Homo sapiens: one gene and its partner. The protein of the gene in region 1 purifies or fractionates together with the protein of each later gene. This does not show direct contact. Each region holds a gene or a part of one and is shown on either strand. Other genes may lie near its edges.

Region 1 (5,172 bases):
ATACAGCTATGCAAACAGACCAAGAAAATCCTTTTATGATATAATCAAGATTGAATTTTAAAATTTATGGTTATTTCCATAAATTGTCCAGTGGGATAAAAATCATTGTTTATTTTTCTTTGTTCCCTTGTTAAACTGGCAGCCTGATACCCAGTAAAGCTAAGAGGAATGGAGACAGGATGTCTATATCCCAAGGCTGTCAACGGAGTTACATCTATTTCTTCTTCCCTTCTCTCAGGTTGTTTACCAGGGAAGGTGATTTAAATAAAACACCCTGTTTCATTAGAGAGTAAGAAAACCTGATTTCCTTGCCAGGATTTGGGGTGAAAAGTGGCTTAAGGAATAAAATGTGGTCAACATGTTCTTATGATGAACATGTTCACAGACCAACTTCATTTTTATAAAGCGCCATGAGTTCCCAGAATATTACACATCCATAATCCAATGTAAATTCAACATTCACAAATAAGTAGAAGTCATTTTTAGAGTCTAGTTTAGCAAATAATTCATGATCAGTCTGCTCCTTCATTAACCCACTCACTGAAAATTAGAATATTTTCCATTTATAATCACACAGATCTCGATAACATCTCCATGAGATAAGGGGAAAACAGCCATAAGAACAATTAGGAACAATCATTTGTGATAATGGAGGTGGGGAAATGTATGGAAACCATGAAACACTGGATGTTTCAAAACTGATTTCTATTTTGAATATAATGGCACAACACACTGACACACAAATATGCTTTTCTCATGAGGTGCGATTATAAATAGCCTTCCATCTAGTCAGTATGTATATACATCTCTCTCTGTATATCCATGACATCTTCAGTTGTCATGGAAAATCTGCAAGTGTAGATTCCACCACTGACAACTGCTGTTCCAGAAAGAATCCCTCCTCTCTGAAATGCTTTCTTCACTTGATTTCCACCACAATCTCCCAGTTTTCCTTCTGACTTACTGGCCATTCCTTCTCATTTACCTGGCTGGACCCCGCTTTCTCCACAAATTCTTAGTATTGGATTTGTCTGAGGGCTTAGTGCTCAGACGTTTTTTCTGTCTATGCGCTCTCCTTTGGTGATCTCATCTAGTCTCGTGGCTTTAATGTCATTTAACTATCCATCTAGCGGTAATTCCTAAATTTATACCTCTAGCCTGGTGCCTCACCTTTAACTCTAGACTTGTACCTCCAACTGCCTACTTGCGAGCTCCACTAGGACACCTAACAGGCATCTAAACACTCCCAAATCAGACTCCTTGTCTTCCTTGTGGCTAAACCTTTCTGCAGTTGTTCCCATCTCTGGCCCCAAACATTGGGTTAGATTTCACTCCTCTTCCACCACACATCCAATCCTTCAGCAAATCTTGCAACAACTTCCTTCAAGATATATCCAAATGCAACCACTTTTCACCATCGTACCTGTTATCGCAGTGCCTTGATGATTGCCATAGCTTCCTAACTGATCTTCCTATGTCCACCTTGCTTTGCCACAGCCTCGTCTGAACATAGCAACTGGAGTGAGGCTGTTACGTCAGAACATAGCAACTGGAGTGAGGCTGTTACGTCAGACCATAGCACCCTCTGCTCCAAACCCCCCAGTGGCTTCCCACCCCTGTGAGAATGCCTACAGGTGTCCTCAGAGCTGCTTCCTCACTTCCTTCCGGTTTTTACTCAATTGCAGTTTTCACAGAAGCCTTCCCTGGAGACCCTACTTAAGTTTGCCAACTCCCCCTCCAGAATTGTCTCTCTCACCCTGATTCATTTTTCCCCATAGCACTACAATGTGACCAACAATGTTCTATTTATTTATTTGGTTTATCATCTATGCTCTCCCCTCTCCTTTAGAATGTAAGTTCCCAGCCGGGTGCGATGGTTCATGCCTGCAATCCCAGCACTTTGGAAGGCTGAGGGGGGCGATCGCTTGACACCCTGGGCAACATGGTGAAATTCCATCTCTACAAAAATACAACAATTAGCCAGGCATGGTGGTGCATGCCTATATTCCCTTGGGAGGCTGGGGTGGGAGGATCCCCTGAGCCCAGGGAGGTTGAGCCTGCAGCGATCCCTGATCATGGCACTGCACTCCAGCCTGGGTGACAGAGTAAGACCCTGTCTGAAAAAAAAAAAAAAAAAAGAAAGCAAGAAAAGAAAAAAGTGAAAAAAAGCATATAAGCTTCATAAAGGCTGACATTTTGTATGTTGGTCACAATACCTAGAACAACAAGTGCCAAATAAATACCTGTTGAATGAAGTGTCTTTTTGTTGGCGTTTTCATGCCTGTTACCATGCATGTACCTTACCTCACCTTAATTGGCTAGGGAATTCTTAATCTCTAGGGAATTCTGGTGAAGAATCAGTCAGCATAATTCTAAGAGTTATGTTTACACAGATGTACTGTGTAACCTTACCTTACCTTAATTGGCTAAAGCTAATAGCACACTACATTCTGATCATTTTCCTATTTTTCAAGCTAGCCATGAATTAGGCCACAGATTAAAAGCTAATACTTTTAGAGGACCAGATTCAATAATTTAAAGGAGGGATCTATGGGCTGATCTTTCTGCCCCATATGTTCCAGTTGGGAACCTGAGAGCTGGCATCTTGTCGCATCCTCTGCCTGGTCTCCAGTGAACCTGGGGCGTCTGGACCATGGCTCAGGGCTGCCAACTCCCGGTAGAGCCTTTTTGCATTATATCACCTTGTACCCTGTCATGTGATAGGCCAAAATAAAAGTATAAAATATATATTTTATTCATGTAAAGATGTTTGTTAGTGCGTGTGCCTATAAATAGATTTTTACATGTTATTAAGGCCAGAGGCATTTAATGCATGTTTATTGAATCTTGAAGGTGTGGTCTGGGATAGTCATTAAGTTTAAAAATGTTTATTCTTGAAAGAACTTTAAAACATTATAAAATAAAACAAATTAAAAAGATACCACTTCAACAAAATCTATTTTTTTATTCTTTTCTTGTTTTGATTCTCACAGGCATAGTTTGAATAGACTATAATCATATGACTCACAATTTTTAAATTTTAGCTTTATTTACATTAAAAATACTCTCCTATGTTTCTACACGGGCGTGGCCCTTATCAATTTAATGGCTACACAGTATAACAAGATTTTGATATAATTTACTTGAATTTTTTTTCTATGTTCACATCATTTCTAGTGTTTCACAGCTGTGAATAAGACGCCTATAAGCTTGTTTGTACACATAATTTTTTTTCTCTTTCTGAATGATTTTTCTGGATTAATTATCTTGAGTGGGATTACTGGATCAGGGAATAAATAGGTGGCTGAAGTGCCTTAAGAAAGAAGTTTCTACCAAGTGCCTGTTAATGAATGCTTGCCTGTGTTAGAATTTATTATTTATTCTTATTTACCACTTCCATAAGGTACAGTGCCGCCCCTATCTTTACCTCTGCACATCTTTAATTAACAGCAAACTTGATCATTTGTAATGGTTGTTAATGATTTATATCTCTCATACCATATGGAGGTTTGGAAGCTAAATGCTAGCAGGAAGAATTCTTTTTTAGAGATAGGGTCTTACTCTGTCATCCAGGCTGAAGTGCAGTGGCACAATCATAGCTGTAGCCTCCAGAACCTGTACTCCCTTAAGGGATCCTCCTATCTCAGGCTCCCTAGTAGCTGGGACTATTGGTGCCCACCACCATGACAGGCTAATTTTTAAAAATATTTTTTGTAGAGACAAGGATCTCGCTATGTTGCCCAGGGTAGTCTTGAATTCCTGACTTCAAGCCATCCTCCTGCTTCGGCCTCCTAAGGCTGAGCCACTGCAACTGCTTGGCCAATTCCAATTTAGAAGAGAATCAGGTGTGGTGAATTAAAAGACAGCTGCAAATGCTTTACCACTTCTTCAGTTGAGTTCTTAAATTGAGCTGGCCTGTGACTACTTTGATCAATTGAGTGTGGCTAGAATGATGTTTTGCAGTTCCAGGTCTGGCCTCTGAAAGGAGCCTTGAGCCTGCTGGAGCAAAAACAGAGAGGACCCTGAGACTACATGGAGGGGGAGATGGGCTCTGCTGAGCTCAGACATCCAGCTGTCCCTGCCAAGGTGCCAGGCATGTGAGTGTTGGACCTCTGACACAAGCTCAGAGTCAGCTGAAGTCCACCAACCCCAGGTGACGTGACAAGGAGCAGAAGAATTGCCCAAATTCCTGACCTTCAACATGGTGAGATATGATAAAACGGTTGTTGTTCTGAATTGCTAAGTTTTGGGGTAGTTATCAAAGAGAAGTGGGGTAGCAAAATTAACCAGTTGCCTGATCTTGACAATAGAATAAGATAAAAGAACAAATAACTCAGTACGATAGTGAACAGACTCCCAAATAAGATCCTATTGCCCTAGCCAGCCTTGGACTTTGTCCAGTTCCCTGCTCATGTCTTCTGGCTCAGACCCTTCCTCTGTGTCTTCACTATTGTCATGGTGCAATAGAAAACCATAACACCAGGAAAATAAGGAGAAACCAAGTCCAACTCTAACAAAGAGGTTTTTCTGAAAACCACCTTCATGTTTCTTGAGTTAGGATATACCTTTGAGAATATCACAGAGACCACTGATCAATTATTTGAAATGATGGGTTCAAGAACTGACATCAGCTTTTCAGCCATATAAAACAAAGCTGCCTCATTAATGGATCTTTGCAACTTTTCCAAGTATCTAATAACACATCACTCTGGAATAGTTGTTAAAAGAGTTTTATCTTTTTATAGCCTTCTTCCCCAGGCAACTTTTAACAAGTTGGATCTGTACCCAGACCTTTTTACTGGTCTGACCCCATCATCATCATCTTCCACTTTAACACGATTTTGCAAAGATCAACAGTGATCCCTCCTACCCCTCTCCTGCTGCTGCTTTTTTTTTTTTTGCCTCCAAACAAACTCAAAGTAATATATAAAACTTGTCACTTTCAGCATGTAAAAATAACTATTTTAATAGCTGGTAATGGCTGGTTATTCATTTTTGTTGGGAAAAGTTTATTCATTATAGAAGTATACTGCCTTAGAATTAAAAAGATAATTCAACAAGAAAGCTGGATAGGGGTCAAAATTTGTTTCTGAATTTCTTCAGTTCCTGATTTGTCTTTTTCTCAAATGACCAAGGATGTGAAACTAGATTTGCGGAGGAATTATTCAAAAG
Region 2 (4,527 bases), on another chromosome or scaffold:
AGCTTTGGAACCAAAAAAACTTCACTCTAATTCAGTCCTAAAGGCTATTTTACATTTTGCCGGGGTAAAGTGACTTCAAGATACAGCATGGTGTCTTGTATCTAGTAGAATATTGTGCTAGCCATCTAAAAAAGTGGATTTGAGCCTTAATTTGGCCGTTTCTCAATTGTCTAGTTGACCTTAGACAATTAGTGTCCATGGCTTTCCTTTTGTTTTTCCCATACTGAGGAACTTAAACTACAGCTCTAAAATGTCTTTTGGTTTTAAAATTCTGAATGCTTATATACTACTATTAAAAATTAAAAATCCCTCAAATAGTAGGGCAATACAGGTAATATGAAATTAAATGTATTTTTATCCATTATTTGATTCCCACCTGTTATTTTATTTAGAATACGAATACAACCAAGTAGGGAAAAACGTATCAGTAACTGCTATTCAACTTAAATTCAGCGAATTAATAGCTGAATAGAAATAGCTAATGACAATGCAAAAGAGAAAACAAGCCATATTGCTAAGAAAAGGATAGTAAGCTGCTTAGAAAGAACCAGCCTGTGTTGGAAATAATTCTCTTCTAGATAATTTACCTTATTTTCTTGGCTTGTACTAATTGAATGGAAGTGGTTAATTTGTTCAGAGTTTATTGCCGTTTGATGCCACCCCAGTCTATAGTTCTGTGTGACTTTCCATATTGAAAGAGTAGGGTTAGTAGCCAGGTTGTCAGTCTTTTACAAATGTCTACATAAATGTCTACATAAATCTGAAAGTGGTTTATATTCAAGGTTAGTTTTTCAGTAGCGTCTCCTCCTTATTCATTCACTTTTACTGTGAAGACTGAAATCCAAAAGCCAGGTTCCCCAAAAAAGTATTTTTAAAAAATTTTAGGGGACCAAAATAAATAGAGGAAGACCAATATAAAAAAATATGTTCAACTATTCCATTTTAAATTTAAAGCAGAAAAAAAAATTGTGCCCCTCAGACCTAAAGGCAGCTTTAAATGTATATAGTTTGGTGAAACATTTGGGAAATATTAATTTGGAGGTTTAGAAGCATACGAAAAACAAATTCAAAGCACTTGAAAGTAAAGACAATATCATGAGGTCGAAAAAACTTCAAAAGGATATTAGGTAAGAGAAAATGTGAATGAAAGCAGTGAATTTCTGCCTCTCCTCGTATTTAGGGTACTTAAAATTACTAAAAAATACTGTCTTTTTACCATACAGCTAGATGGCCTGTATTATTCTTAATGTGGCCAAAGGAGTGAAGACTGATTAGGGTTTTAGAATTTGGAACTGTAGTCACATAAAGGCATCTTTTGCATTTCTTAAACCAGTAATCTACATTTTCTCCTGGAAATGGAGAAATATGAAATGTGCTGTGCATAGCTTTTGGAATAGAAAACAAAGTTTTAAAAGAATGGATATGTTTTCTTGCACAACTTGTAAAATTTTAATTAAAAAATTACCTCATTTTTCAATCCATAAGGTGCTTTGCTCAAGTTTGTGGGATGTTTGTACCATCCCATAAAAACCCCCTTCACCCAAACTGTATTTGAAATATGCAAAATTCATAACTAAGGGATAGCATTCCTTGGAGACTTTGTTTTGTTTTACTCTTGTTTACCAGCTGGGCCAACATGGTAGATATATGAGATTCACATATGGTTTCATTAAAGCACATAGGAAAGTGCTCAGTCAATATTTAATTAGTTTAATTAGATAAGGGAAAGGAGAAATCCTAAATTTGATGGATTCTTTTATACTGTGAATATATTTCCATCAGTGTTGGTAAGATATCAAATGACTATCAGTTGATCCCAGTCATCAGTGACTTATTTGCATATTTAAGCCCTATTCACAAGAGACCATAATCATTTTAATCTTATATTTTCCCTCAGGAAATTTAGGGACTCTGAAGCCCCTATTTTATTCTCTTGGAGTAAACTGTTGAGTGTAGTTACAAAAACTTTTATTTATGACTTAAAAAAAGTTTAGCTGCTATTTCAGTGAAAGTGTAAAATAAAACGGTCATGATTTTTTTCAATTACAGAATAGTTACAAATTTTACCATGTTCATCTATTCCACAGAGCATGTTAAAAACAACAACAACAAAAACCTAACAGCAATTACAACCTTGGTGTTGCGTTTATTCTAATCAGAGTGAATGATTATAATCACACTTTGCTATTTTAACATAAATTGGTGCTTTAGAGCATTAAAGAGGAAGCAGCAGGCCCTGTACTCAGTATTTATTATTTCTTGCCTCAGAATGCAAAACAACTTTAAAGTGTCTATATTCATATATATGTGCATTTCTTAAGATTTAAATACAAACTGTTGTTACTCCTTAAGCTTCAGGCTTTCTGCGAAAGCTCTAAGAATATCTTCATTACTATGCTTGGTCAACTGGAAGATGGTATTAATAAGGTCAGAATTAGGAATTGGATTGCTCTGTGGGTCCTCCGGTATTGTGCAGAGGAAAGAAAAATGTCTTTCACACCACAAACTGTGTGTCTGAACCCCAGCCAAACAAATGTGTTCCATTGGTCCAATATATAAGCATTAACAACAACAACAAAAAATTTAAAACAAGTAAATTAATGCATTCACATGATCACTTCTTGAAAATGGTTCAAAGCATGTTTTCCTGATGGTGGGATTGTTTAAATGACATGTTTTAAAGTTTTTAATACTTTATTAGTTATGAAGTGCTTCTTTTATATGTTAAGTTTAGGTTGCCAGTACTCATAATTTTTATTTCTGCAATTATGTTATAATGAGTTGTTTGCATGCCTACTTAACCCAAGTAAAACGATGCTGTTTGCTCTGGAATGTTCATCTTTTAGACAGGTTTTGGCTCATTTCCAATCATGGTGCAATATAGTGTAACATTCATTTGTTTTCATTCAACAGTTTTATTTTTGTCATAATAAATAATTACTTTTCCAATACGAAGTGAATCCAGTGTTTTCTTTTAAAGGTAAATCTGCTTTAAGTTATTTGCTTGCAAATAATAGAAACCCACCTATGCCAACAAAGAGAGGATAATTGGGGTGAGGTGGTGGAGGCTCACAGAACCCACGGAACAACTGGATTTGTAGAACAGACTGAGACTAGAGACTGGACCATTTAGGAGCAAGCAGGAAGTTACCTTTTTTCCTGCTCATCTGTTTCTGTCTTTCACCTGACTGGATTTCTCTGTTTCCTGATCCACATAACAGATAATGTCCCAAGTCCAGTAGCCTCCTAAATTTGTACAAGGGAGAAGTCAGATTATTGTTAGACTTTCAATTACAATTCCATATTCCCCAGGGAAATTGTTCATTAGCCTGCATTGGGTCATTTCCTCTCTCTGATCTAAACAACTGGCCAAGTGGAAGGTGCATTTACCAGAGAAGGGGAATCCCTGGCCTGGGAAGGTGATCCGGATTGGTGTGTACTCCATTGTGGGGTATAATTGGGATCATCTACCAAAGTTGTGTCCTTGTAAAAAATAAAATAAAATTGAGATCTAATAATGAGTGGGATAACATTTTCACTATGTTCATTCTTCACATTCCTCTAAAGTGGTTTTAACTCCACCGTTTTTGCTCACAGACCTCTTTGGGAATGTGATAAAAGTTGCCTACGTAGAAAAATGACTCATAATTACAGAGTTAGGAATTTTGAGTAGAAGGTTAGGAATTTCAGGTACCTAGGCTTAAGAGTTCTGCTACACACGGAACACTCAGATTTCTTCTGAAAGACACCAGAAACTAGTAAGATTTCATTCTGCCTGTTATTTTTTAATCAGTAAACTTAAGATTGGTATCTTTTTTAAAGCATGTTTTATGTAGGTATTTTTGTAGGTATAATGAATGCATTAAACTGTTCGTGGTTAAAGTGTACAATTTGAAAAGCTTTGATGTGTATACATTTGCAAAATCTTCACCACAATCTGGGTAATGAAAATACCTGTCACTCCAAAAGTTTCCTAGTGTCGCTTTGTAATCCTCCCTTCTGCTCCACTCCCCATCCGCAGATAATCACTGGTTTTGACTAATTATCCCCAATTTTGTGATTTAAAACAGTCTAAAATTAAGGTGCCAGCAGGGCTGTGTTTCTCCTCAAGGTTCAGGAGAGAACTCATCCTCACCTTTTTCAGCTTTTAGAGGCTGTGTGCATTTCTCGGCTCATGGCCCCTTCCTCACATCACTCCACCATCTGGCTTCTGTCAACACATCTACCCATTCTCATCATCCTATGCTTTTCTCATATTAAGGACCCTAGTGTTTCTAACTAGGTTTTCCTTGATAATCCAGGATAACCTTCCCATCTTGAGGCCCTTATGCCAGGTAAGGTAACACATTCACATGTCTTGGGGAATTAATTCTACTGCATGTGAGCTAAAAGAGCATCCTGAACAAAACCCTCACATGCTGGCAGGTGGCCACTTGCGATACTGGCTCACTGCAACCTTTGCCTCCCAGGCTCAAGTGATCCTCCCATCTCAGCCTCCCGAGTAGCTGGGACCACAGGCATGTGCCA

What was found. Proteins that work in one complex are often made in the same cells at the same time.
Region 2: the proteins of EDNRA (region 1) and ARL5B purify together in Homo sapiens (affinity purification with mass spectrometry; 3 studies listed by BioGRID and IntAct, with this or other methods). This does not show direct contact.

The regions. Positions count from the first base shown.
Region 1 is NC_000004.12:147,525,324-147,530,495, reverse strand, and holds part of EDNRA (endothelin-1 receptor isoform a precursor), read right to left. Parts: exon of another isoform or gene 4,000-5,172; coding exon of another isoform or gene 3,945-3,999; exon of another isoform or gene 2,946-3,944; intron 1-2,945. UniProt on the Homo sapiens protein: Receptor for endothelin-1. Mediates its action by association with G proteins that activate a phosphatidylinositol-calcium second messenger system. The rank order of binding affinities for ET-A is: ET1 > ET2 >> ET3.
Region 2 is NC_000010.11:18,678,689-18,683,215, forward strand, and holds the end of ARL5B (ADP-ribosylation factor-like protein 5B), read left to right. Parts: 3' UTR 1-2,951; downstream 2,952-4,527.